Linked DNA regions of Homo sapiens. The protein of the gene in region 1 interacts with the protein of each later gene in a biochemical or structural test. Each region holds a gene or a part of one and is shown in the gene's direction. Other genes may lie near its edges. The genes, in order: CDC34, BTRC, UBA1 and RNF7.

Region 1 (7,835 bases):
TACAAGGCATGAGAGCAGCAAGATGCCATCGTGTAAGAGTCTCAGTGACATCTTGGGCTCCACAGGAAGACCTTTGTACAACTATCTTATCTAACCCACTTTCAAATTAAAAAACTGAAAGTCGGGCTGGGCGCGGTGGCTCATGCCTGTCATCCCAGCAGTTTCAGAGGCCGAGGCAGGCGGATCACCTGAGGTCAGGAGTTCGAGACCAGCCTGGCCAACATGGCGAAACCCCGTCACTACTAAAACTACAAAAATTAGCCGAGTATGGTGGCGCACCTGTAATCCCAGCTACTCGGGAGGCTGAGGCAGGAGAATTGCTTGAACCCAGGAGGCAGAGATTGCAATGAGCCAAGATCGTGTCACTGCACTCCAGCCTGGGCAACAGAGTGAGACTCTGTCTCAAAATAAAATAATAAAATAAAATAAAAAACTGAAACTCATAGGCCAGGCACGGTGGCTCATGTCTGTAATCCCAGCACTTTGGGAGGCCAAGGAGGGTGGATCACATGAGGTCAGGAGTTCCAGACCAGCCTGGCCAACATGGTGAAACCCCATCTCTACTAAAAATATAAAAATTAGCTGGCATGGTGGCACAAGTCACCCACTTGGGAGGCTGAGGCAGGAGGATCACTTGAACCCGGGAAGCAAAGGATGCAGTGAGAAGAGATGGAGCCACTGCGCTCCAGCCTGGGTGACAGAGCAAGACGCCATCTCAAAAAAAAAATAATTAAATAAATAAATTAATTAAATAAACCTGAGACTGGGTTTAATGTTTGAGCGATATTTCCAAGGTCGTGGCAGAAACTAGATTTGAATTTAAGGTTCTTCTCTGCCATGTGATGGAAAACCTAACTCAAACTGGCTTAATTAACGAAGAAGGAATTTATTTTTACTTATTTATTTATTTTTGAGATGGAGTTTCACTCTTGTTGCCCAGGCTGGAGTGCAATGGCGTGATCTTGACTCACCACAACCTCCGCCTCCCAGGTTCAAGCGATTCTTGGGCCTCACCCTCCCGAGCAGCTGGAATTATAGGCATGTGCCACCACGCCCGGCTAATTTTGTATTTTTAGTAGAGACAGGGTTTCTCCATGTTGGTCAGGCTGGTCTGGAACTCCTGACCTCAGGTGATCCACCCTCCTCGGCCTCCCAAAGTGCTGGGATTACAGGTGTGAGCCACGGCGCCCGGCACGAAGAAGGAATTTAACCTGGTTGTGGTGGTGTGCACGTGTGGTCCCAGCTACCTGGGAGGCTGAGGTGGGAGGACTGTTTGAGCCCAGGAGTTCAAGGCCAGCCTGAGCAACAGGAACGGGGGCAGGGAGGGAGGAAAGGAAAATAAACTAAAAAGGCTGGGCGTGGTGGCTCACGCCTGTAATTCCAGTACTTTAAGAGGCCAAGGCAGGAGGATCACTTGAGGCTGAGAGATCGAGACCAGCCTGGCCAACATGGTAAAACCCCATCTCTACTAAAAATTCAAAAATTAGCTGGGTGTGACAGTGCACGCTTGTGATCCTAGCTACTTCGGAGACAGGTGGGAGGATTGCTTAAGCCTGGGAGGCAGAGGTTGCAATGAGCTGAGATTGCGCCACTGGACTCCAGCTTGGGTGACACAGAGAGACTCCATCTCAACACAAACGAACTAAGAGGCAAGAATTCATGAGCTTGCATCATTGGAACATCCAGGGGAGGTCAGGTAACAGCATGATGCAGGATCACTAATAGGATTATCAACGTTTCCCCTCTCATCAGCCGGCTCGGCTTTCCTGTGATGCCGCCTTTGTTCGGAGGCCCCGTGGTGACACCATGACCCCGTAACTCCAGCCCCAGGTCCTTCCAGCTCAGCCACCCCAGCACTGTGATCCCAGAGAAATGTCCCAGAGCTGAATCTCATTGGACGTCAGGAGTCACATGCTTGTTCCTGAACCAATCATTGCAGCCCAGGGTGGGGGCCCTGGGAACTGATGGGATGGCCCCTCCCTGCAGCCAGGGCTTGCGTCAGTCCAATTCGAACCCGTTCCCACAGAGTAGGGAGCCCCCAAGCAGGCAGGTGGAAGCCCCTGGTGTCCACCGCTCCCGGGTGCTGTGAGCCTGAGCCTCCCTGGGGGTCGGGGCCCTGTGGGACCAGCTGGAGGGGCTTGAAAATCTCCCCAACCCAGGCCGGGCGCGGTGGCTCACGCCTGTAATCCCAACACTTTGGGAGGCCGAGGCGGGCGGATCACGAAGTCAGGAGATCAAGACCATCCTGGCTAACACGGTGAAACCGCTTCTCTACTAAAAATACAAAAAATTAGCAGGGCGTGGTGGCATGCGTCTGTAGTCCCAGCTACTCAGGAGGCTGAGGCAGGAGAATCACTTGAACCCGGGAGGTGGAGGTTGCAGGGAGCCAAGATCGTGCCACTGCACTCCAGCCTGGGCGACAGAGCAAGACTCCTTCTCAAAAAAAAAAAAAAAAAAAAAAAGCGAGAGAAAGAAAACCTCCCTCACCCACACAGTGCTTCCTGGGATGTGGGTGTACGGAAGAAGAGAGATCTTGGGAGCCCTTAGAGAAGGAATCGTGGTTAATTCTAATTAGCATTAATTTACCCATGAGCTGCTGCCTGCCGGCTCCATGATGCTGGCAATATATCCACGACCTGTGGCACGGAAGAGACTGAGGCTCACAAAACCCTGGGAACCTTGGTGAAGGGGCCACAGCCAGAAGGCCCCACTAGTCCCGAGACCCTCCTTTTACTCCAGGCCCCCAGGGTGCCGGGCAGAGGGGCCTGAGGGAGGAGGCCCAGAGGCCCTTACGGGTGAGGACGCCTCGGCCTCGGCCCTGGACAGCTCTGGAAGTGACCGCTCGGCCCAGAGCTCTTTCTTGGATCCCTCCCTCCCTCTCCACTCCTGATGCTGTTTTCCTTTCCCCAGACAGGTTTGCCTGCTGGTCCTCTTCCGGGGACCAGACTCATGAAGCCGGGGCCAGGTGTTGGGGCACCTGCGGGACAGAGTGGCCCTGGTCCCAGACTGGTTTTTGTTTTTGGTTTTTTTTTTTTTTGAGACGGAGTCTCTGTCGCCCAGGCTGGAGCGCAGTGGCGCTATCTAGACTCACTGCAAGCTCCGCCTCCCGGGCTCACGCCATTCTCCTGCCTCAGCCTCCCGAGTAGCTGGGACTACGGGCGCCCGCCACCACGCCCAGATAATTTTTTGTATTTTTAGTAGAGACGGGGTTTCACCATATTAGCCACAATGGTCTCGATCTCCTGACATTGTGATCCGCCCGCCTCGGCCCCCCAAAGTGTTGGGATCACAGGCGTGAGCCACCGTGCCCGGCCTGTATGTTGATGCAGCTGTGTGTACCCAGGGCATAGCAACAATGCCACTGGCACAGTCCGAGGGCAGGGCCACCCGTCACGGGCACGACTCAGGGGAGGCTGGGCTGCCCCGTCCTCACCACGGCCAGTTCTCCCGACCAAGCTTCACAGCAAGGAGCATGTGGGTGTCTGGGCAGCCACTGAGCCAGGTCAGAAGTCAGGTGGGGTCACAGTGATGCCCGGAATCAGCTGGGGTCAAGACTCAGGTGGGCTGGGCGCGGTGGCTCATGCCTATAATCCCAGCATTTGGGAGGCCGACGCAGACGGATCCCTTTATTAGTCCAAACTGCATCCTCCCCTTCCTTTCAAAACCTAACAACACACTTGAGGTCAGGGGTTCGAGACCAGCCTGGCCAACATGGTGAAACCCCATCTCTACTTAAAATACAAAATTAGCCGGACGTGGTGGCGGGCACCTGTAATCTCAGCTACTCGGGAGGCTGAGGCGGACACTAGCTTGAACCCGGGAGGCGGAGGTTGCAGTGAGATTGTGCCACTGCACTCCAGCCTGGGCCACAGAACGAGACTCTGTCTCATTTAAAAAAAAAAAAAAAAAAAAGACTCGGGTAGGACAAAGGTCAGGCTGGGAGGAGGGCACAGCCAGGCTCGGGCTCAGCTTGGGGTGGGGGCTCCGTGGGGCTGGCGCCTCTCCCGGGTCAGGTGCTGAGCCGATGCTGGCCGGCGTAGGCCTCTTTCCCAGTTTCTCTGGGGGGCAGGAGCACCTTGCCAACCTCTGATGGCTCCAGCGCCTGCACTCGCCTCACACCACATGGTGACTTCAACGGGGACCAGGGAAGCCCTCGCCCCTCCCACCCCTCAGAGCCCTCCCCGACCTCGCCCACTTCTCAGAGCTCCCGCTGTCGGGGGAACCGAGGCAGCGCCGCGCCTGGAAGCCAGGTCTGCGGATCCCGCCTCGCTCCCGCCCCTTCCTCCCTTCCGCGTGGCCAGCGCGACCCTAGGACAGACTTCGCGCCCGTCCCCTGCACAGACGGGGAAACGGAGACGGGGACGCGGGGTCGCGCCGGATGGACCGGCCCTGCCCCTCCGGTCCCGGTCAGGACCCCGCGCCGCGCCCCGTTCACCGCCCGCGGCCCCGCCCCGCGCCGGCACGTCACAAAACAACCCCAAAGCCGGGGGACCGGGCCGGTGACGGCGCAGAGCAGCCCTGCCCGCCTCCTTGCGCACAGCGTCCGCGGTGCTGGTCGAGCAGGGGGCGACGGCGGCGGCCTCGGGGATCGGAAGAGCCCGGGGCTGCGCGCTCGAACCCTCCCTCCCGGCGGAGGCGCTCGGCGCCGTAGGCGGGACCGGGGCCGGGACTCCACCTCCCGGCGTCCCCTGCGGCCGGGCGCGCAGGCGCAAGTCGGACCTGGCCGCGGAGCGCAGGCGCAGTCGGGGCCAGGCGGTGCGCGCAGGCGCAGCGGGGGGCGGGGCGCGCGGGCCCGGCCAAGGCAAGCGCCGGTGGGGCGGCGGCGCCAGAGCTGCTGGAGCGCTCGGGGTCCCCGGGCGGCGGCGGCGGCGCAGAGGAGGAGGCAGGCGGCGGCCCCGGTGGCTCCCCCCCGGACGGTGCGCGGCCCGGCCCGTCTCGCGAACTCGCGGTGGTCGCGCGGCCCCGCGCTGCTCCGACCCCGGGCCCCTCCGCCGCCGCCATGGCTCGGCCGCTAGTGCCCAGCTCGCAGAAGGCGCTGCTGCTGGAGCTCAAGGGGCTGCAGGAAGAGCCGGTCGAGGGATTCCGCGTGACACTGGTGGACGAGGGCGATCTATACAACTGGGAGGTGGCCATCTTCGGGCCCCCCAACACCTACTACGAGGGCGGCTACTTCAAGGTGAGCGCGGCGACCCCCGCCCGGGTCCCGGAGCCCACGAGCGACCTCGGGCGCCGGGAACCAGCTCCCTGCCCCGCGGTCCTAGCGCTGTTGCTGGGCGGGCCCCGAAGCCTCCTGGCTTGGGCTCGTTTCCCTTCTATGGCCACGTTCCCCCACCCAGCTCTGCCCGGCCCCCTCCTCGGACCGTCTCGGGGACCTTCAGCCTCTGCTGCAGTCCTCGAAAATCCCCAGTTCCCTTCAAGGCATCGTCCGGTCCCCTGTTAGGCTCTTGGCCCCCGGAGGGGTGGCCGGGGGCCCTCCCTGTAGCATCTGGGCGTGGGGCTCTTGCCCACCTCCTCCTTGGCGGGGGCTGGACCCCGGCTGCCTCCCCCTCCGCCCCTGCGAGAAAGAGGGAGCGGAGCCCAGGCCGCGCCGGCCTTTCAGCTGCCCTCCCCGCCCTCCCCGGAGGAGACAAAGAGGCCCCCCCAGACCCCGTAGCTGCTATTGTTGGGGAGCTGGGCCCGTGAGCGGGGGAGCGAGGCCAGCCTGGGGGTGGCTGGCGCGGCCACTCGCTCAGTCTCCAACAAAGGCCCGGATGAGCCTTGGCAGCCAGGACCCGCCTGGAAAGCGGCCACCCTTGCCAGTAGCAGCCGGCCAGGCGCCCTGGGCTCCATCCCCTGCTTTATGTAACCTGCGCCCTCGGGAAGGCCGAAGTAGGGGCGTGCCTCCCACCTGCTCCCTGCAGCTCTCTCCAGGCCTCCCGGCTCGGGCCCGCGTCCCGGACCCCGACCTCAGAAGCTCCGGGCTCGCTCATCCCAGCTGGTCTTGGCCTTTCTCAGAGTCCACTGAACAGGTGGCTTCTTGGGACCCAAACCCCGAGTTCTGGGCCGTTTCTTCTGCCCTCTGGCGGTTTAATTCCAAGCAGTTTCTGGATGTTTTTGTTGTTGTTGGGAGCGGGGAGGCTGTTTCTGTCTCATGTGAAAAGGACTCAGGCCAAAACCAGGGCAGTTTTCTTGATCTCACGATCCAGACGTGACCTTTGACTTCTTTTAGCGTTCAGGGACCTCGTTCTTGGGGCCAGAGGGACAAAGCGAGGGGCCCTGTGTGAGCGGTGGGGAACGAGCACCCTGTCCAGGAATCTCCCCCTCCCACCGTCACTTCCTGCCAAGAGCCTGGACACGACACGACACTGCAGGGCCCGGCCCGCTCTGCCCCGGCCAGCTGCGGGCGTGGGGCCGAGGGACCGATGCCTCCCGCACGATATGTGTCTGCTCTCCGAGCTAATTAGTGTCTGAACCGCACCCGCTCAGCGGCTGTGAGGGCAGCAGCCTGGTCTGCTGGGGGCGATTCCTGAGCAGAGAGTGGGACGCCCGTGGGTTCTGCATCTGGAATCCTGCGTCCCCACACAGGGAACAGAGTTTGGGTCTCGAGGTTGCCAAATGGTTTTAGCAGCTCCTCCGCCAGCCCCTTCTGTCTGCTTGGGGGAGCAGCTGGCTGAGGAGCCGCAGCCCCACCTCGAAGCCAGGCCTGTGAGGCGGCTGCTGTTCTGGAAGGAGGGGATGGGGGTTTCTGGCTGCTGTGCCCACCAGACCGGTTGCCAGGGATTGTGGGCAGAGCTTCCTGGGCCAGCATTAGGGGATAATCCGGTTTTCCGGATTTCCCAGGGAGGGGGCCTCTAGACATCTGCCACAGGGTCAGTCCTCAGAAGCCAGTGTTGAGACGGGGGTGCTGCCACCCACGAGGACTCTCCCTTCCCGCTGTGCCTGGGAGGGAGTTGGGGGAGCGTGGAAATACAGAACCTGCTGAGTGCCCAGGGCCGCTGCTGCCCAGCCACTGCCTGCAGCTGCTGTTCCTTCAGGAGCCAAAGTGAGCCCTGGGGCAGGGGCCGCCAGAGAGAGCCCTCCACAGCCGACTTGCTGTCTGCCCTTGGCAGGGCGCTTTCCTTTTCTGAGCCTGGGTTTGCTCCGGGGAAAAGACATTCTTAGAGGTGCCCAAAATAAGAGGCTCATTGGGACTTGGTGGGGTTTGGTACAGATGAGGCCTTGGCTGTTGTCAAGGATTGCCGCCTGAAACCCAGCACCAGGCTTGGGGGGCCTGAAGTCTTGGGGAACCGCAGGACAGTTCTGAGACTGAAGTTCCAGCCTTGCTCTGTGGCCGCGGCCAAGTCACTTGCCTTACGGGGCACCAGTGAGTTCCCTGTCAAACAGAGGACACCCCCCAAGACACCCCGCGTGCCCTCCCTGTCCAGGAGGGGCCCGTCCACGATCCAAGACCCCCAAAGTGCCCTGCCTGTCCGGGAGGGGCCTCGCCCACAATCCAAGACCCCCGAGTACCCTCCCTGTCCAGACCTCGCCCACGATCCAAGACCCCCTGAGTGCCCTCCCTGTCCAGACCTCACCCACGATCCAAGACCCCCTGAGTGCCCTCCCTGTCCAGACCTCGCCCACAATCCAAGACCCCCGAGTACCCTCCCTGTCAAGGCCTCGCCCACGATCCAAGACCCCCGAGTGCCCGCCCTGTCCAGACCTCGCCCACGATCCAAGACCCCCGAGTGCCCTCCCTGTCCAGACCTCGCCCACGATCCAAGACCCCCGAGTGCCCTCCCTGTCCAGACCTCGCCCACGATCCAAGACCCCCGAGTGCCCTCCCTGTCCAGACCTCGCCCACGATCCAAGACCCC
Region 2 (6,947 bases), on another chromosome or scaffold:
GAGCTTGCAGTGAGCCGAGATCGCACCACTGTACTCCAGCCTGGGCAACAGAGCGCGACTCAGTCTCAAAAAAGAGAGAGAGAGACAAGGTCTTGCCAGGTTGCCAACCTGGTCTTGAACTTCTGGGCTCAAGAGATCCTCCTGCCTTGGCTTCCCACACCTGTGTGTAAGCCACTGCACCTGGCCCTATTAATGCCTTTTATAGCTGTTTTCTCTGCTGTGTATCAGTGTCAGTGTATGTGTGTTGTTCCTGTGTCCAATCAGGGATCATTCATTGCATTTAGTTGCCATGCTTCTTCAATTTCCTTTGAACTAAAATCTTCCTTCTTTCAGACAAAACAATGCTTTCCTTAGACTCTCAACTTCTACATCCCACCACTGTGCTAGCTTTTCTCTCCTTCCCTAGATAGCCACGTTTTGTAAAGAAGAGACTCAGCAGTCTTCATATCCTCACCTCCCTCTTCAACAGGCTGCAGTGTGGCATCTGCACCCCCTAACCCCTTCATGATCCTCACTCACCAGACTTTCCTGCTACCTCTCTGGTCACTTCTTGGGCTACTTTGTAGGCTCCTCTTCCTGTGCTCGTCCTATAAATCTTACAGTTCTTTAGGACCCTGTCCTAGTCCTGTTGCTCTTTCCACTGTTTATGCTTTCCCTGGGTGATTTCTTTTCTTTCTTTATTTTATTTATTTATTTTTTTGAGACAGAGTCTTGCTCTGCCACCCAGGCTGGAGTGCAGTGGTGTGATCTCGGCTCACTGCAACCTCCACCTTCTGGGTTCAAGCGATTCTCCTGCATCAGCCTCCTGAGTAACTAGGACTACAGGTGAGCACCACCCCACCCAGCTAATTTTGTATTTTTCATAGAGATGGGGTTTCACCATGTTGGCTAGGCTGGTCTCGAACTCCTGACCTCAGGTAATCCACCTGCCTCAGCCTCCCAAAGTGCTGGGATTTCCAGTGTGAGTCACCATGCCCAGCTCCCTGGATGATTTCATTCTTTTCGGGGGAAGAAGCGGGAGTGGAGTTTCATTTACCACCTACATGCTGGAATCCCTATTTGTAGCCCAGGTCTTTCCCTCCAACTTCAGTTTCAAATCTCCAATGGCCTCCTCAACATCTGAATCCACTTAGAAATCTCACAGGCACCTTGAAGCAATATGTCCAAAAAGAGAACTGATTATCCTCCTACCACTTCTACTGTGCTTTCTGTCAAAAAAAAGAAAAAAATACATATATATGGCATCCCTCATTCATTACCTGAGCCAGATACATAGAAGTCATCTTTGACACATCCTTTTGACATCATCCATGACACATCTAATCAATCACCATACTCCACTGATTCTATCTTCTTAGTATCTCTGGAATCCATCTACTTCTTTCTGTTCTCACCACCACATTCAGGCTGCCATCATCTCTCCCAGGAATATTTCAGCAACCTCATAATCCTTTCCCCAAGCTTCCAGCTGTGCTCCATTTTAATCTCTCCTCCACCCTGGACTCTGAGTGATTTTCTGAAAATGCAAATCTGACCATTTTTTAAATTGTTCAGCTAGTTTCTCACAGCTCTCAGGATACAGTCTAAATGACTGAACTTGGCCTATAAGCTGGAGTGAAAGTCAAGGTATTTTATATCTGGTAAGGTACAGGCCCTGATGCCAGTTTAGAAAGCATGTCAGCTGATTTATCTGACCAGTTTATGCCGGCTAAATAATGGCTTGCCTATAGAGCCCCATACTCTTCTGCAGTCTCATCTAGGGCCACTCTTCCTCTAAAGTCCCACTGATCTTGTTTTGGTTCTCAGAATCAATCACCAAAAATGCAGTTACCTTTGCCTGGAATACTCTTTTCCAGTGGCTGCACCATCATCCCACCTTATCTTTTCATTTATTTATTTATTTATTTTTTTTGTAACTCCATCCTGTTACTGCCTTAGTCCTCTGAAAACCTCCAGCTAGTTTTCATACGAATGCGTTTGAAGTCTTCTCCATTTTGCACTTGTGTAGAATTTTTTTAAAAATTCAAGAACAAAACTTTTTATTAACTGAAAGCCTATTATGTATTAAGTATCATGCTGAGTTTTGTGGATATAGGGGCTAGGACAAAGTATCAACAGAGTAAAAGTGTAAGCTCCACGAGGAAATAACTGGGTCTGTCTTGTTCATTAATGAATCCCCATTCCTTTTTCTTTTTGTTTAATTAATTACTTTTATTTTTATTTCAATAGTTTTTGGGGTACAAGTGGTTTTTGGTTATATAGATGAATTATAGTGGTGAAGTCTGATATTTTAGCCACCCAAGTAGTGATGAATCCCTATTTCTTGAGATGATGTCTGCACACGGTTATATGCTTACCATTTGTTGGATGACTGAGTGAATAAGATAGTTTAAAATGGAGATTTTTTCCTATAAGTCAAAAAGTATTTTCCTAGTTCATTTATTTTATAAATTCAGATATTTTGTACAAGGCTGTCACAATCTAACTCACTTTTTTTTTTTTTTTTTTTTAGACAGAGTCTCGTTCTGTTGCCCAGCCTGGAGTGCAGTAGCGTGATCTCGGCTCACTGCAACTTCCGCCTCCCGGGTTCAAGCAATTCTCATGCCTCAGCCTGCCGAGTAGCTTGAATTACAGGCGCGTGCCACCAGGCCCGACTAATTTTTGTATTTTTAGTAGAGACGGGGGTTTCTCCATGTTGGCCAGGCTCGTCTCGAACTCCTGACCTCAGGTGATCCACCCGCCTTAGCCTCCCACAGTGCTGGGATTACAAGCGTCAGTCACCGCGCCTGGCCCTAAATCACTTTTGTTGTTGTTGTTGTTGTTATACTGTTCTTTTTCATTGCTAAGTAATATTCCACTGTGCTACATATGGAATATGCTACAATTTGTTCATACAACCACCTGCTGAGGGGCATTTGGGTGTGTGTCAGTTTTTTAGGCTGTATAACCAATTATCACAAACATAGCAGCTTAAAACAACCTAAATCACTTTTAACCAAACCCTAGAGTTTTCTCCTCCTAAGGTAGACCCAATTTCCAAAATAAACCCATATTGTACCTTTTCAGGCCAAAGAAAATATTTATATGCTTTATTTGCTGGAGGCCATTATATTCCACCGTTGAAGGACTTTTGTTAAGTACCTGTTTGACCCTTAGTGCAGGGCTTACATCCCACAGTTAGCAATAGCAAGTTATGTGCTTTTTGAGCTCTAAACACTGAGAATTTCTTGAACCGAGTTCTATTCGGCCCTGACTTGCTGTGGGGGAGAAAAGATTCCTCGGGAGAAGTGTGGGTGGCGATGGCTTAGGAGGACCTTGAAATTCCGCATTTGTCTGTGAGCTGCTGCCAGGTGCCCATTGGCCCAGCTACTCTGGGTCGCAAACCTGCAGATGCCAGATACATGAAATTTGGGGACGTTCAGCTTCCTAAAACCACAGTTAGGCAGGTCCTAGGACCCGTGATTCTTGCCACAGTTTTTCTTAGTATTTGGGCTACAAGTGAGGCATTGGCCGCCATCTTGATATCAAATGCCAGGCAAGCCGCTACTGGCGTCGCTCGGTAACCACGGAGACACCCGTGCCCCTCCCGTTTCTCATCCTTAGAGGCTGTAAACTACAATTCCCATCAGCCGATTTCCTCTGCGTAATGGCAACTTATCTAAATCTGGCTTGTGGGCAACCGCAACGCTGCCGCAGTGAACTGTGGGAGTTGCGGTTCACGGCGTAGCCTCAGTTTTTTTCCTGGGGGAAGTTCCAGAACTACAAATCCCGTGAGCCAGTGGGCTTTCGCCTGCGCACGGAGAAGCCGATTCTCCTTGGCCCCTCAGCCTGCGCCTGAGAGGTAAGAGAGGGCGGGGGGAAGGAAGAGGAGGCGGGATCCGGGCGCTGCGTTGGCTGCGGCCTGGCACCAAAGGGGCGGCCCCGGCGGAGAGCGGACCCAGTGGCCTCGGCGATTATGGACCCGGCCGAGGCGGTGCTGCAAGAGAAGGCACTCAAGTTTATGGTGAGGAGACGGTGGAGGCCGGGGAACGGTGGAGGCGCTGGCGTTGGCGGCGTCGCTGGCCTGGGCCGCCCGCCCACTGCGGGACCGGGCAGCGGGACCCTGGGCCGAGGCTGGCGGCGGAGCGGCTGGAGGGATGGGATGGGAGCTCCAGAAAGGAGGCTGGGGGTTGCGGAGCGGACCCAGGGGTGGGGGCAGCGGCTCCGCCATCTTGTGGATGAGAGGCCAAGTGACAGCGGGAGCTTAATCGAGGAGGGGGCTCCAGGCGGCGCGCGGGGCCCTGGAGGGAAAGGGGCGTGGGGACTGTTACTGAAAAGCGGAGGAAGCTCTCTGGAGAAACGCCGTGAGGCCGCTGGCGGGGCCTTCCTGGTGTCAGGGTTACCGGTAAGGCCCGGGAGAGGAGGTGCATTCACGACTGGGGAAGGGAGCGCGGGATAGAGTGAAGACAGATACGGTGGGTAGAGGGGAACGGGCAGGGCTGGATGCAGATGGATTTAAGGGTGGAGGAGGGAACGCTAGGGCTGGTGAGAGGCTTATAGTTTTGTAGAATGAGGAGGGAGGATAGCCTTTGCCTTGAGGGTGGAATCCCAGCTTGGCCAAACTACTGTTGACAAACTCTGGAAGGGAAGAGGCCTCACTAAAGAAGATAAGGACTGGGAATGAGGACCTAGGGCTATAATGACAGTCCCTGGGAGGGGAAAAGGGTGTTGACTGTAAGCTAGAATTACAAATGTCAGGGAGGGGTACATAACGCTACTTTGAAAGGAGAAGCTAAATACTGTAATAAGGACAAGGTGATGAAAAGTAAGAGCAGATTGTCAGGGAAACATGGGTACAGGAGATTGGGGCAAAATGAGTATCTAATAGGGTAAGCAAAACAAAATTTAAAGGTAAATTGTGGGACGGTAAAATGTGGAGGCCAGGTGCTTTGTATCATTTTCTGGGAAAGGAAAGGCCGTGGAGATGAGAGTTGCAAAGACCCATAAGAAGTGATGAGATCAGTTGAGAAATTTAGGAGATAAAAAGGGTGGAGGTTGGTAGAGGGAAGTAAGTCAGGGATAAGTCAGGATTTGTGGTTACCCGTCAGTTTTAGGTTGAAGCACAGTGTGAGCAAAGATTGGATTTTGTGGGTGTGCTTAAACCCCTTGGAACATATTTCTTTAACTTTGTATCACGCTTTTCTTTTTGCTGTGCTTATCTTTGGCAAACTCGTATAGTCTGATATTTGATGCTTTTAATCTGATGCTTTTTGTATTTCCTAGGTGTAAAACCAGACTTTGTGGTTACAACTAAAGAATGATGGAATGCATAGATTTTAAGCTTAACAGGTGGCCTTAGGGACATTGATATTATTTGCAGTCCAGTCTTGCTTTTTCAGAAGTTATTGTGACTTGTCACTCCAAATCTTACTCCTTTGCTTAAAAAAATAGCTATTTTGTATCTTTGCCTAAAATACCGTAACAAATCCAGATAAACATGGATACTAACAAAATTGAATTTTAGACTTTAAACTGCCCCATTTATAAGAATACTTTTTTGGAATCTAGTCAAATTCACTAAAACTTTATCTTGCATTAGTGTTTTCGAAAACACCTAATTAAAATTCAGGGGTATCATTAACAAAATTTCATTGAGCCTGAAGAAGGTTCTTGGATTTCTGCCCAACATTAAAATTCTAAATATGAAGAAGAGACCTTGAACTTTTACTGGACTTTAGAAGTAAGTGAAAGTTACTACACTTAAGTTAGAAAACTGTTACTGCTTATTTTTGTTTTCCTACTTAGAGGGTTGACTCCTTTTTTTCTTCTTTTGAGATGGAGTCTTGCTTTGTCGCCCAGGCTGGAGTGCAGTGGTGCAGCCTCCGCCTCCTGGGTTCAAGCGATTCTCCTGCCTCAGCCTCCCGAGTAGCTAGAACTACAGGTGTGGGCCACCACGCCCATCTAATTTTTTATTTTTAGTAGAGTCGGGGTTTCACTATGTTGGCCAGGATGGTCTCATCTCCTGACCTCGTGATCCGCCCACCTTGGCCTCCCAAAGTGCTGGGATTTCAGGTGTGAGCCACAGCGCCCAGCAGAGGGTTGACTCTTAATCCTAATCCTGACATTTGTGTCAGATTTATGGAATAATGTGATTTACAGATCATAAAGAGACATTATGAGATCATCCTTTTTACTCTCAGTTAGACTTCAGCCTAGTAACATTCTCAGCTACTTAATCTCTGCTTTGTACCAGTGAGTTATGTTTTGATAATGGCCTCCCTGGTTGAGTTAAAGTGGACTTGGAGATGACCATATAGTAGTTGCAGCTTTTAGAGCACCACACATTATTAAATCTTGAATCAGTTTTCATAGGGAGAAGCCAATTTTTTCTTTTAATTTTAGTTACTTTCATTATTGACCTTGCCTGCTGTTTTGGCTGCCATTTGAGAAAAGGTCAACTAGAAGAGGGTCACCAGAATGACACCTTAATAAAAGAAACAGAGAATGGAGAGTTTGAGATTGGGTATTCTCTTTCAGTGCAGTAACAGTCTTATGAATCTGAGTAAGTCACAACTTCCCTTTGGTGCCATTTACCCTGCTATAACATGTCTGTTTATTCAGAGTCAGTTTTAAGAAAGGAAGATAGGCCGGGTGCGGTGGCTCATGCCTGTAATCCAGGACTTTGGGAGGCCGAGGCAGGCGGATCACGAGGTCAGGAGATCGAGACCATCCTGGCTAACATGGTGAAACTCCGTCTCTCTAAAAATACAAAAAATTAGGCGGGTGTGGCAGCGTGCGCCTGTAGTCCCAGCTACTCGGGAGGCTGAGGCAGGAGAATGGCGTGAACCCGGGAGGTGGAGCTTGCAGTGAGCCAAGATCGCGCCACTGCACTCCAGCCTGGGCGACAGAGCAAGACTCCGTCTCAAAAAAACAAACAAACAAAAAAGGAAGATATTGGCCAGGCGTGG
Region 3 (7,068 bases), on another chromosome or scaffold:
ACAACCCTCTCTTCCACCCTCCCTCTCCCTCTCCTTTGTCTATTTTCCTGCCTCCACAGGGCTCACTGTGGGACCACAGATGCACCCCACTATGCCCAGCTAATTCTTTGATTTTTTGTGGAGACCAGGTGGTGGTGGTGGGGTGTGTGTGTGTGTATGTTGGGGCGTGGGGGGGTCTCACTTTGTTGCCCAGGCTGGTCTTGAACTCCTGGGCTCAAGCAATCATCCTGCCTCAGCCTGCCAAAGTGATGGGATTATAGGCGTGAGCCGCCGCGCCCGGCCAAGACTCCATTTATTAAAAGGCTAAAGAATTTTGCCAGGCGCGGCGGCTCGCGCCTATAGTCCCAGCACTTTGGGAGGCCGAGCGGGCGGTATCGCCTGAGCTCAGGAGCTCTAGTCCAGTCTGGCTAACGTGGCGAAATCCCGTCTCCACTATGGTAACATGTAAACATAGAAAAGATAACAGTAAAATTTTTTCTGTGTTATAGGACCGTTGACCAAAATGTTATGCAGCACATGATTGTATATCCATAATTTATATTACTGTATATAGTCACAGATATCTATTATAATACGGGTTTGTATGTGAAACTATAATTTTACTTATTGTTATGTTTATGGTCTGTGTATCTTGCTAGAATGTCAGCTCCATGAGCCCAAGGAAGAATTTCCAGCACCTGGCCCATGTCAAATGAACTTTTTTGGCCACCTGAGTCTCGGTCTCCCCATCTGTAGGATGGGTGTGCCTTTCCATGTGGAGGCACCCACACGTTCCGTTTCCTCTTCCCACCCTACAGAGCACGGCTCCGGCAATTCCACAGCTCAGGCTTACATTTTCCCATATTCTGGACGCTGGTGCCCACCACGTGCACCAGGCACTGGCCAGACAGAACTACCACCCCCAGCATGCCGCGCGCATTTGGGCCGTACCACAACCTGTAGGGTCATCTGGGTCTGAAACGGGCACCAGCGACGCGGGAGCAGGGACTGACGCCCCTCTAGCAAAGCATCTGTGGTACATCCCAGACCCGGGGCTCTCCAAGGCCCCGCGCTTCCGAGCTCCGCGCAAACTCTGGCTTCTCTTGTACGACAGAGGTGGTTTGCTCTTCCGTTGCCCCGTGGCTTCAGCTCATCTTTGGCAGGAAGGCGAGGCTTCCGCCCGGCACAGGGGGTGAGCTGGAGCACCGTGCCCCCAAGCCTCTGGACAGCATTTGGAGGAGGGTGCTTCCCTAATCCCAACTTCGGGGAAACCCCTCATGGGCGTATTTGGAGCCTCCGGGCCCGGGGTGATATTTAGGGGGCGTCTGCTTTTGAGACCCTTAAGGGGTGCCGTTTGGGGACTTCGGGGTGGGATTTGGGAGTCTGTTTCGGGGAGCACCCCTCGGAGGCAGGGTTTGGGGGGCTTTGGGGAGATTCTTAGGGTCCGTGTATGGGCACCCTTGTCCGTGGAGCAGGATTTGGGTTATTCTTCAAGGGGAGAAGCAAAGCTTGAGGTTACTAAAGTCAAGGCGGGACTGGGGGAGGGCTTGTTTCAGGACGGGGTCCTGGTGACAGAACAATCGGGACCGACGTGGCATTGTGGAGGTGTCAGGCCTTTGTGACCTCTGGTTTTGTGATGAGGTCCTCCCCGCGCCTGGAGGCTCAGGACTGCGAGACTGGACACGTCGGGGGCCCAGATGTTTCTAGGGAGAGGAGCCTCCCAGCTCAGGCTAGGGAAGGGACACCGGAGCCCAGCTCTTCCTGAGCTGACGAGGCGCCACCCGGCCTTTATTCATTATTCATAATAAGGTGGGGCTGTGGTAGGCGGCAGTTTTTTTGCCTCTTTCGCACCTGGTCCGCTGAAGGTTCTCGGCTTGTGAATTATTCACGAGGGGCGGATCAGCGTGCCGAAGGGACGTGCTGAAGGGGCGTTCTGAAGTCTGCCGCGCAAACGAGTTCATTGATGATTCGCAAAAGTTAAGTAGCACCCTGAGTTTTCAGTGGCTTTTCTAGGGGTTCCGTGCTTAATTCATGAGGAGCGTGGCTTTTGCAGCTTTGTCTGCGTGATCCGCGGTTAGCTTTCCCTTGCAGGTACCAGAGTTAAAACCTGGCGTCTAGCAAAGGGATGAGGCCTCCTACATTGTTCATTTCTTATGGCCTGGTAATCCCAGATAATCAGCCGGCTCTGGATTCAAATCCCATCGATCCTTTCCAGTTGTGTGATCTTTGGCAAATCGTTTTGTAAGCCTGAATAATGGGTATGAGGATAACGATAAGATTAGCTTACACTCGTTTAGCTACTTAGCGCATTTAATCTTCACGACAATCCTAGGAGGTAGGTCATTATTACCCCCACTTTATAGATAAGGAAACTGGGACACAGGAAGGCTAAGTAATTTGCCTAAGGTCACACAATCAGTGAGTGGCTGGGCCGGGATTCAAATTGGGGTCTAGTTCCGCAATCTGTAGTCTTAACCAGATGCCATAATGTCTCCCCTCCCCATTCCCCTGCGCCGCCATTTGATAGTACTACTACTACTAATATAACACTTAGCATGTGCCAGGCACTGGTCTAAGCCCTTTCTACTTATTTCTTCATTTAAACTCCATCGCAAGGTAAGTTGCTGTTATTCCTATTTTATGGATGGGGAAGCAGTGGCCCAAGTTGGGGGTTTCTCTAGTGGCTGAGTATTCATAACTAATTTTATATTAATGTAAATATATATTTACATATCTTAACATATTACTTTTATATTAATATATAATATTTTAAAAATTTAACAGTGCCTTGTGCCAGCAATGTTCTAAGGCTCATCCCATAATTTATATTCTCTGATTTTCTTTTGTTTGAGACGGAGTTTCTCTCTTGTCGCCCAAGCTGGAGTGCAATGGCGCGATCTCGGCTGACTGCAACCTCTGCTTCCCGAGTTCAAGCGATTCTCCTGCCTCAGCCTCCCCAGTAGCTGGGATTACAGGCGCCCGCCAACATGCCCAGCTAATTTTTGTATTTTTAGTAGAGACAGGGTTTCACCATCTTGGCCAGGCTGGTCTCCAATTCCTGACCTCAGGTGATCCACCCGCCTCGGCCTCCTAAAGTGCTGGGATTACAGGCGTCATCTGATTTTCATAATAACACATTACTATCCTCATTTTACAGTTGTGGAAACTGAGGCACCTGCCAAAGACATGTAGTGAGTTTGGGTTTGATTGGACCAAGGCAGCCCTTGTTCCTGAGGCGGGGAGAATGGAGGGAGGCGTGGAGAGGGGAGGTGGGGGCAGGGAGTACACGTCCCCTGGGTTTTCTGGTGGCACTGCAGTGACATCTTTCATTATTCATGAACAGGAAGGCGTGCTCACTTTGCCTTGGCTATAGCATCGTAATCCCTATTTGCTGGGCAGGGCAGTCTTGGGTGTTTCTTCGCCTTATGCATAATTCATAAATTGGGTGGAACCTTTCTTGACCTCTCTGAGTTTCCAGGTTGAGCTACTGCAGCAGCATAATTCATTATTCAGGACCTGGGAGAGTGTGTTTTCCCTGCAGCAGCCCCATTTCCCTGCTTACAGTGTATTAGATGCAGCAATAGGCGGGCGTGCCCCTTTTATTCCAACCCACTGGGCCTCATGCATTATTCATGAGTAAGTTGTGGCCTGGGTCTCCTTGGCTTCCGGGCCCCTGCAAGATCATCATTATTCATGAATGGGGGTGTGTGGCTTCCATGTTTTAACATCTGCTTTCTGGTTGCTGGTTGTTAGTCTACCAACCACTCAACTTCATGCATAACTTATAATCAGGAAGCATGGCCTTAACGGTTTTTCTTCGCTTCCTTGACAGCCTGGCTGCAACAATTCATTCATTAGTCGCATTCCATGAGGCGTGGCCTCTGTTTTACCTGTTTTCGTTGTTACTGCCACAATGTCCACCAGGTGGTGCTGTTCCACTTCTAACCGAATGAATCGCAACCGAGTAGGGAACTTTATGCATGATTCATAAGTAGGCGCGGCCCGCTTGCATCCGGGTTTCTGGGGGTGGGGCCCAAGGTTTTGTTCCGGCCCCAGGCTCAGCGTCCGCCATCTTGTGTCGGCGGCTCGGCTGTAAGGAGGTGGCAGGGACAACCACAACCACAACGGCCGGGGGAGGAGAAGGCGGCAGCGGCGATTCTAGGCGGCCCAGGCGGCGGGGAGGAGGAGAAGGAGGAGGGTGGCGGCCGGGCTTGGCTTCGGCTCCTTGAGGAGTTGGCGGCGGCGCGACCCGGGGAACCGGCATTGGTAAAAAAACGTCCTTTCACTGCGCCTCGCCCTGGGCAGGGGTTTCGGGGAGGCACTGGAGGGCCCTGAGCCACGCTGCTGTCGGGGCGGGCCGCGGTGACTCGGGAGCCAGGAATCAGCGGAGTAGGGAGGGGGAGCGGATCCTGGGGCGGGGCCGACTTTCCCCGGCCAGGACCACTCCGGCTCCCTCTGGTTGCAAAATCTGACCTTGGAGTCGGACCCCCAGGATGTGCTTTTAGAGACTCACGCCCAACATCTCTAGTCTGGGACCTGACTCCGTCCCGAACCTTGTATCTCAGATCAGAACTCTTCCCCAGTCTCCAATAGAGATTTACGTGGATCAGCATTGCTGATCAGAGCTCCTCACCATTGAATGCCGTTAAAGACCTGCCCCAGAATCTCCTTTGAGACACTTCCTAGCTTCTCAGTATTTGTCCTCAAGGCTTCCAGGACGGGCTAGATCTCGAAGGGGTCCATAGGCCCTTTATCTCTGTAAGAGAGTCCTCTTTAGCATTTTCCTTCAGACCCCCATCCCACACACATGCTAGCCGCGCTCAGAGCTTCCAGGGGTACTAGACCCTGTGAAAGGCCATTTGGGCCTGGCCTTTGTGTCGGGGGCCCCTCTTCGCCACACGTCAGGTCTCCTAACCCCACCCTGGCCCTAGCATCTTCCATCAGAGACTCTGCCCAGTATTTCTACTCAGAGACCCCTCTTACCATCTGCCTTGAGAGACTCTTCAATTCCTAGACTCTGTCCTTTGACACTTTCTCTACTTTTATGGAATTTCTCGCTTTTTATACTTCCAGTATTCAGAGACTACTGAGAGGCCTCAGCATCTTCCCCATCAGGCACCTTGAACCCCCAGAGCCTTCCAGTGCACCAGATACCAGGGAGGAACTGTTTGGATACATAATCCTCCATCAAAGAGCCCCTGCGAGCATCTGCTCTTGCAGATCCCGTTGGCTTCTAGCCCCTTCCATCAGAGACTCGCCTCCCCAACCCCACCCTAGACCCAGCCTCTGCCTTCAAAAACCAACCTGGGTTCTAGCTGCTTTTTTCACAGATCCCTTATCCTCACATCAGGCCTCAGAATCTGCCCTCAGATCGTTTCAAGGTCCCTAACGTCTGCAGTCAGGGGTTTTCAGCTTCTGCTTTCAGCCTCCTTGGACCCCAGGATCATTGTCAGATGTCCCTTCCCCCCACAGGCCTTCTTGTTTTCTTTTTCTTTTTCTTTTTTCCGAGACAGAATTGTTTCACTATGTCGTCCAGGCTGGAGTGCAGTGGCGCCATCTCAGCTCACTGCAACCTCCACCTCCTGGGTTCAAGCGATTCTCCTGCCTCAGCCTCCCGAGTAGCTGGGATTACAGGCATGCACCACCACGCCTGGCTAATTTTTTGTATTTTTAGTAGAGATGGGGTTTCACCATATTGCCCAGGCTGGTCTCGAACTCCTGACCTCAGGTGATCCACCTGCCTCGGCCTCCCAAAGTGCTGGGATTGCAGGCGTGAGCCACCGCGCCTGGCCATGGCCCTCTTGTTTTCTACTGCAGTAGAAAACCCTCTTCTCAGCATCTACCTTCAGCGCCTCCATGGGGTCCTACATAATTGGTCAGAGAAACCCAACCCCATTTGGGGACCTAGCCAGTGTTTGCTTATTAACCTTTTTAAGGCCTGCACTATCTGGGCCCAGCTTCCCGTTTCCACACCCTCAGAGCAGCTGTGATACCTAGCATGTCCTGTCAGAGATTGACACAGGGCCTTTGTGTTCCATTAGAAACCTCTCCCAGCCCCTCACCATCCACCCTCACAGCCTCCTGGGACTCTGTAGTAGGAATGTCAGATACACCTCTCCTCTTGCATGTCCCTATCTATTATTTTTGGTTAAAGATTTCTCTCTGCTACCAGCATCTGTCTCCAGAGTCCTCCAGAGCCTCAACATCCTCCTGATGGAGGCTGCCTCTCCCCCCAGACCCCAACATCTTCCTGCTGCCTCCTCAGACTCTAGAATCCCCCACCCATTCCCTTTGCAGCTTCCATGGGGCCCAGCAACTGTCCTCCTACCTCCTTGCAGCCTTGGGGGCCTCCACTGCAATTTTTCAGCCTTTCTCCAAAAGATCCTTTTCCAGAGATCCGAATTTGAGTCTTTTCCTAATACCCTAGCCTAGTCCTTTCCCTCCCAGGACTTCTAACATCTCCTTTCCCATTTGTCTCAGAGCCTCCTTGCTCTTAGACACCCACTTCCTGATTCTCCTCTCACGTTCCCATGGACTTCTCAGTTAACCCCTCCCAGAAAGCTTGACATGCTCCAGCCCCCCTTCTCTATGCCCTAGCTTCTCCATCCTGCTAACCTGCCTCCTCTCACACCTCCAAGACTCCTCCCTCAAACCCTCTGGTTTGGGAATAGAGAATGCTTACGCTTGAAAATCTTCAGTTTGGAGACTCAGGTATGTTTAGAAACTAAGCCACAGCTCAGCTTTGCCAAACAGTTCACAGTGTGTATGTTATGGTGGGGGCCTGAGCAAATGTTGAGGTAGGAAGGGTGTAGATTGTTTTTCTGCTGGGGGTGGGGGATCTTTAGCTCCTCTGCAGAGTTTCTGTCCCAGACTCCTGCTTGCCTTGAGACAGGGCTGTTCCAAACCTTTGCAGTCAAAATCCACTTGAACAATCATCTGAAACTTCTTAGACTCTTGCTGCCTGCACTGGGGATCCAGAGGTGAAATGTCCAGATATTAAAGTGCTCTCTGGCCCTGGATCATCTCTAATTTATGGAGTGAGGAAATGGCATGTCCCAAACAAACTGACCAATGACAAGGCAAGGAGAT
Region 4 (6,786 bases), on another chromosome or scaffold:
AGACCCAGCCTTGGTCATTTTGGTGTCCCCAGTGCATAACTCCTTGCACAGAGGAGATAGTAATTGTGGGATTGAAGAAAACCTCAGGAGGCAGTGGTTGTTTTTAATCCACACTGAAGAGACTAGGGCAGTGGTGTTTTTTTAAGGGTAAGAGCATGTGGAAAGGAGCAAACAAATGCCTGAGCAGAATCCAGTGTAAGAAGAGAAGCAGGCTTCAACTTAACCGTGTTTCTATTTTTACAGAATTATTTTTCTCCTATTTATGTTAAAAACTATTTTCTGTTGGTTCAAACTTCCTTTTACCCAACTCTGACTCCTCTTCCAGCTAGTGAATGAGTCCATTTTTGCTCCCTAAAATATTCTATATTACTTTTTTCATTAAGCTGATAGTATTCCAGATTGAATTTTGAAAACTTCTAGTACAGCCTTTAGGATCTCATTTTTAGTATTTACACCTACTCCACTATATTAGAAGTTACTATAAGCTCACTGGGCATGCTCATGGGCAGTTTATTTTCAAGGCACCCTTTTAAATAACCCATACATATAATGTTAGTATTTGTTTATATATACATCAAGAAATTCTAGAAGGATACCCAAGAAACCAGTAATAAAGTAATTTATTAAAAGACTTTACCATTGTTGGGTAAATACTTTGGGCTCAGACTTATCTGTATTTTCTTTCTTTCTTTTTTTTTTTAAAAAAACTTTTAGGTTCAGGGCTACAAGTACAGGGTTGTTACATAGATAAACTTGTGTCACAAGGGTTTGTTGCACAGATTATTTCATCACCCAGGTATTGAGCCTAGTACCCATTAGTTATTTTTCCTGATCCTCTCCACCTTCCACCCTCCAAAAGGCCCCAGTGTGTGTTGTTCCCTGCTATGTGGCCATGTGTTCTCATCATTTAGCTCTCAAGCATTTTCTTTTTTTTTTTTTTTTTTTTTGAGACGGAGTCTCGCTCTTTCGCCCAGGCTGGAGTGCAGTGGCGCTATCTCGGCTCACTGCAAGCTCTGCCTCCTGGGTTCACGCCATTCTCCTGCCTCAGCCTCCCGAGTAGCTGGGACTACAGGCGCCCACCACCACGCCCGGCTAATTTTTTGTATTTTTAGTAGAGACGGGGTTTCACCATGTTAGCCAGGATGGTCTCCATCTCCTGACCTCGTGATCCGCCCGCCTCAGCCTCCCAAAGTGCTGGGATTACAGGCGAGCATTTTCTTACAAAGAAAAAACCTTAGTGTTTAGGGATATCTAGTATTTACTTATTTTATCTGTAAAATTCTCACCAGTTTGTATCATCCCCACTTAATATATAAATACCTCACAGTATTGTCCCTTTTTTACAGATGAGGGAATTGGAGTTCGTAATTGGTCCGAGGCCCTGAACCTAATAAATGCCAGTGAAATGGGATTTGACTGTAGATCTGGCTCCACAGCCCTCGCTGTCCCCTCTGTCTCACTGGCTTCTCACCAGCCTTGTCTGGATGACCATCGGTAGCAACCTATTGGAAGCATACAAAGCAGTTTATTTTAGAGGAACTCTCAAGTGTCTTAGGGTAGAAAGTAAAAAGTTGCTTCTTATGAGTTGCTAAAGGAAGGCTTCTGTGTCAGTAAGTATGGATGACTTTAAAAAACTTGTTTATGAAGCAATTTTTTAATTTAATTTTTTATAAGTTATATATTCATATAGTTCAGAAATTGAGGAAGTTATGTATATTACCTGGAAGAGTGAAAACTCTCCTTCCCATTCCAAACCCTCCCAGTAAACTTTATTATTGGTTCCTTGGGTATCCTAGTGTTTCTTGATGTATGTATAAACAAATGCTAACATATATATATGGTTTATTTAAAGGGTGTCTTGAAAATAAACTGTCCATGAGCATGCCCAGTAAGCGTATGGTAACTTTGAATATAGTGGAGTATGGCATATTTTTCTCTAGTAGTTTTCTCTCTTGGCACCGTCAGGACATCTTTTCATCAGAGCTTATAAAAATAGAGGATTTGTTAACCCTTGTGAAATTGCTCCTGGTTATAATTAGTAGAATGCCTTGTACTTTATTCCTCTTTAAGTAGTTATGTTCAGATGAGAAATTAATAGTATGAGTCTTTATTGCCATCCCTAACCCTTAGGGCTTTTGACTTTGAAGTGTCTGGTTTTTAAAAATTGCATTCTGAGCATCAGAATGAGAATCGCTATTTGTTTACTTTTAGATGCCTGTCTTAGATGTCAAGCTGAAAACAAACAAGAGGACTGTGTTGGTATGTTGTAATTTTGTTCTCTTGCTTTTTCAACTGAAGGTTTTCTCTCAGTAGGGATGTTTGAATTTGAAATTAAGATTGACTTTATCAATACACAAAAATAAACTGTAAAGCAGTGATCCATTGTTAATATAAAATATGTTGGTTCTCAAAAGAGTTTAATGGAATGAACCTGCAAGTCCTTTTATTGCCATAATTAAGAAGAATTGGTTATATATTCCAGACATGGTCATAATAAACATTTTGGTAATCAAAAATTAAATATTTTCTATTAAGAAAATTATAAAATCAGAAATTTGTCAAAACATTATTTGAATTTTGGCTATGTTATAGGTCACTTTTGGTTCTAATAAGGCATTTCACTTTTCAATACTCTTATAATACAGTATTTAACTTTAAAACCAGAGTAGAAAAATTCTAAGTCTCAAGTATATTTTTGGAATGTGGTTTGTGTATCAAATTTTCTTTAGAGTCTTAGACTACAAAAGTTGTCGTAGGCTAAATATTTTAGGCAGTTCAAAGATTTTTATGCCCTAGTTCTTGAGGTGATCAAGTCTAGATTGCTATATAAACATGTTTATAGATTTTCTTAGAATAAAAGATTGGCTTTGTATTTTGTGTTTGCATGGTGTACGTAGAACACAAATACATGGTGTACATAGAACTTCTTAATATTGATTCTTGCAGTTTTGATCCAGTTCTTCCTCCTGAAACGCTTAGAATGTTTCACCCTTGCTTCCTACCCCCTGTAGCCAATTTTCATAGGCATTTTTTTCTTTTTTTCTGCCTTATTTCTTTCATTTAATCTTTTTCTCTGCCTTATTTCTTTCATTTAATCTTTTTCTCTTGTCATATAGCTCAGTTGATCAAGCAAGGGACAGATGAATCCCAAATTCGAGATTGCATTCTAGATTGTGGATGATTTCCCTTGTTTTAAAGTTTTTCTTTCATGCTGCTTGTTTAAAAAGTATTAATTTGGGAATTGTGAGGGGCAGGCCACTTTCTTTGATCACAGAGAGACCTCTCTCTCCAGCCAGCCACTTTGAAAATTTCATCGTCACATGAGGAATTGCACTGCTTATGGGTGACTTAACACAATTCATCACTTCTAGAAAACAGCTCAGCTCAGATGCACAACTGAATGTTTAGAAGCATGTTATTTATAATAGCCTACTGCATACTAAAAACATTTACAACTCATTCTGTCTTGGTAAATAAAAATTGGAAGGACATTTTCCCATAAAATAAAGCCCAGAAGATCTCTAAGGTCAGTGCATGACTGAGAAGGTCAGATCTAAGGAAGGTTCAAGAACATTCATCTAACTTCAAGAAGACAGCATGTGGAGCTGTGTAGGAACTAGGGGTCATCACATCACCCATAGATTCTAGAACAGTGATGGAAAGGCTCTCAAACAGTGACTTATGTCTCTGTGTAACTTACACATTTAAGTTTCTGTTTCTTTATAGATAGAAAAACATTATTTTGGCCAATTAACTATCTTTTTTCAAGATTATTATTTGTAATATAAAATAAGCTATAATTTTGAGTTCAGTGTTTAAATTGAAATATGTAATGTCAACTCTTCTTTTTCTTTCTTTCAGTGGTCTGGGGAGAATGTAATCATTCCTTCCACAACTGCTGCATGTCCCTGTGGGTGAAACAGAACAATCGCTGCCCTCTCTGCCAGCAGGACTGGGTGGTCCAAAGAATCGGCAAATGAGAGTGGTTAGAAGGCTTCTTAGCGCAGTTGTTCAGAGCCCTGGTGGATCTTGTAATCCAGTGCCCTACAAAGGCTAGAACACTACAGGGGATGAATTCTTCAAATAGGAGCCGATGGATCTGTGGTCCTTTGGGACTCATCAAAGCCTTGGTTTAGCATTTTGTCAGTTTTATCTTCAGAAATTCTCTGCGATTAAGAAGATAATTTATTAAAGGTGGTCCTTCCTACCTCTGTGGTGTGTGTCGCGCACACAGCTTAGAAGTGCTATAAAAAAGGAAAGAGCTCCAAATTGAATCACCTTTATAATTTACCCATTTCTATACAACAGGCAGTGGAAGCAGTTTCAGAGAACTTTTTGCATGCTTATGGTTGATCAGTTAAAAAAGAATGTTACAGTAACAAATAAAGTGCAGTTTAAAACCCAACTCTTACTCTTAATTTGTTCCTAATACGTATTTTTGGCAGGGAGAGGGAACGGTCCATGAAATCTTTATGTGATATAAGGATTTTAAGTTTGGGCCAGTGAACAGGGTAAATAAAATTTAACTTTTGAGCATATGGAATTTTGATTGCCTTTAAAGTTACTATTCTGTATCATTGATTCATCAAGAAAACCTAGATCTGCACTCACCTCACTGTTCAATCATTGAGTGGTAAAGGACAGAAGTATTTTCTAGTTCTGGTCAGATGATATAATTTTTTTTTTTTTTTTTTGTGGGGGTGAAGTCTTGCTCTGCCACCCAGGCTGGAGTGCAGTGGCATGATGTCAACTCACTGCAACCTCCGCCTCCCGGGTTCAAGTGATTCTCCTGCCTCAGCCTCCCGAGTAGCTGGGATTACAGGTGTGTGCCACCACACCCGGCTAATTTTTGTATTTTTAGTAGAGACGGGATTTCCCCATGTTGGCCAGGCTGGTCTCAAACTCCTGACCTCAGGTGATTCGCCCACCTCAGCCTCCCAAAGTGCTGGGATTACAGGTGTGGGCCACTGCACCTGGCCCAGATGATATAATTTAACTGTGTTTTAGGTAACATGTTAATGAGGGAAAATGTTTACCAGTGTAGCATTGGATCAAAAAGTTTATCACACAGTGTTTTAATAAATGGTTTATTCTGCTTACCTTATTTGAATTGTCATTATAATTTTATATGCAACCTTAATTTGTCAAGTAAATACTTTCATTTAATTTGAAAGAATTCATATTCATTTGCTCTTTCATTTGACAATAATAAAATTTAAGGTTTATTACCTGGAAAGAGTGCAAGAAAATACTAAACAACTTTATCAAACTGATTCACACTGAGGGGAGGTTATTTTGTAACAAATAATGGACCACAAGTTCATTTTGTATTCTTCTGTAGTAGAGGCTACTGATATGAATTTAAGAAAAAACCTTAGAATCTTAACTTTTCACATCTGCAGATGCAGTGTGCCATTCTGAATTTTTCAATCTAAGGGATGTGGATACATAGAATGTTTAAAAAGATAACAATTAGAATGAAAAATTAAAATTATGTATGCTTTTATATGGGTTACTTTTTATTGATCACATTTCTCTGGAAATTTTTCTTTATATTTTTTCACAGTTGTCTTTCTAGCTACTGAAAAAATTATACAAATATCTTTGGCCATTTAAATGTTTATCATTGTGCAGTGAACTGTTTTAGTAACTTTCTGTTTGACCTTTTTAGAAGGTTGCATCCTTAAAATGTGAACCAGATACATGGCTTTGCATTGAAGAGGAAAGCAGTAGAATGTCAGGTTACTTTAGGCAGTGTGACAGTATATAAATGAAATGTGGAGGATGGTGGTAACAATTTGATTTTCCACACAGCAAAACCACAGTCCCGCCACCTAACAAAGCCCTGTTTATGCCACACACCAGCATCTGAGGGAAGAGGAGGCACTGTGACAAAGCAGCGCTGATGCTGCTCAGCCTGCGATGATTACAGCTCATCTGCACAGCCATCTGAAAGTTTAATACATACTCATCAGAGGGAACATGCCGGGACAATTTTGGGTTCCAATACAAAAGTTAAGCATCAAACAGGTTTTTCTTTCCATTTGATTAAATGTGCTGATTTTATTTTACTGTTGCATTAGAAACAAACAAGTTATCTTTCGCTATTTAATTTTCCCTCTATGCAAATTGTGTTATTACAGCTGACCGCTATCAGTAAATCTTAATTCTGTCAGTCCCATTGCTTCCTTTTTTATAAAAATACTGTGTCCCCCTTTACTGTCATGAAGTGAAATTCATAAATATATTTCCTACACATATAATTTAAATGTATGTAATTGTTATATGACAGAACTAAAAAGAACTTGTAATTCAGTTGTATTTCAATATAGAAATGCTTGGACATGGATGGGCACGTTGGCTCACGCTGTAATCCAAGCACTTTGGGAGGCCAAGGTGGGTGGATTGCCTGAGGTCAGGTGTTCGAGACCAGCCTAGCCAACACGGTGAAGTCCTGTCTCTAACAAAAATTGGCCGGGTGTGGTAGCAGGTGCCTGTAATCCCAGCTACTCGGGAGGCTGAGGCAGTAGAATCGCTTGAACCCACGAGGCAGAGATTGCAGTGAGCCGAGATCGCACCACTGCACTCCAGCCTGGGCAATGAGCGAAACTCTGTCTCAAAAAAAAAAAAAGAAATACGAAAAAGCAGCACTTTGCTGCTTTTTAAGTTATTGCCATGGAGCCAGGCATGGTGGTGCACACACTAGTCTCAGCTACTCTGAAGGCTGAGGCGGGAGGATTGCTTGAGCCTAGAAGTTTGAGGCTGCAGTATACAGATCATGCCTGT

Evidence for each region.
Region 2: the proteins of CDC34 (region 1) and BTRC form a complex in vitro, tested with the Homo sapiens proteins (4 studies listed by BioGRID and IntAct, with this or other methods).
Region 3: of the proteins of CDC34 (region 1) and UBA1, one has a biochemical effect on the other in vitro, tested with the Homo sapiens proteins (7 studies listed by BioGRID, with this or other methods).
Region 4: the proteins of CDC34 (region 1) and RNF7 form a complex in vitro, tested with the Homo sapiens proteins (5 studies listed by BioGRID).

Annotation. Positions count from the first base shown.
Region 1 is NC_000019.10:526,933-534,767, forward strand, and holds the start of CDC34 (ubiquitin-conjugating enzyme E2 R1), read left to right. Parts: upstream 1-4,827; 5' UTR 4,828-4,999; coding exon 5,000-5,176; intron 5,177-7,835. UniProt on the Homo sapiens protein: E2 ubiquitin-conjugating enzyme that accepts ubiquitin from an E1 ubiquitin-activating protein, and catalyzes its covalent attachment to other proteins by an E3 ubiquitin-protein ligase complex. In vitro catalyzes 'Lys-48'-linked polyubiquitination.
Region 2 is NC_000010.11:101,350,226-101,357,172, forward strand, and holds the start of BTRC (F-box/WD repeat-containing protein 1A), read left to right. Parts: upstream 1-3,939; 5' UTR 3,940-3,955; coding exon 3,956-4,003; coding exon of another isoform or gene 4,004-4,384; intron 4,385-6,947. UniProt on the Homo sapiens protein: Substrate recognition component of a SCF (SKP1-CUL1-F-box protein) E3 ubiquitin-protein ligase complex which mediates the ubiquitination and subsequent proteasomal degradation of target proteins. Recognizes and binds to phosphorylated target proteins.
Region 3 is NC_000023.11:47,189,780-47,196,847, forward strand, and holds the start of UBA1 (ubiquitin-like modifier-activating enzyme 1), read left to right. Parts: upstream 1-4,049; 5' UTR 4,050-4,245; exon of another isoform or gene 4,246-6,653; coding exon of another isoform or gene 6,654-6,690; exon of another isoform or gene 6,691-7,068. UniProt on the Homo sapiens protein: Catalyzes the first step in ubiquitin conjugation to mark cellular proteins for degradation through the ubiquitin-proteasome system.
Region 4 is NC_000003.12:141,741,298-141,748,083, forward strand, and holds the end of RNF7 (RING-box protein 2), read left to right. Parts: intron 1-1,346; exon of another isoform or gene 1,347-1,610; intron 1,611-2,211; coding exon 2,212-2,259; exon of another isoform or gene 2,260-2,260; intron 2,261-3,861; coding exon 3,862-3,980; 3' UTR 3,981-6,263; downstream 6,264-6,786. UniProt on the Homo sapiens protein: Catalytic component of multiple cullin-5-RING E3 ubiquitin-protein ligase complexes (ECS complexes), which mediate the ubiquitination and subsequent proteasomal degradation of target proteins.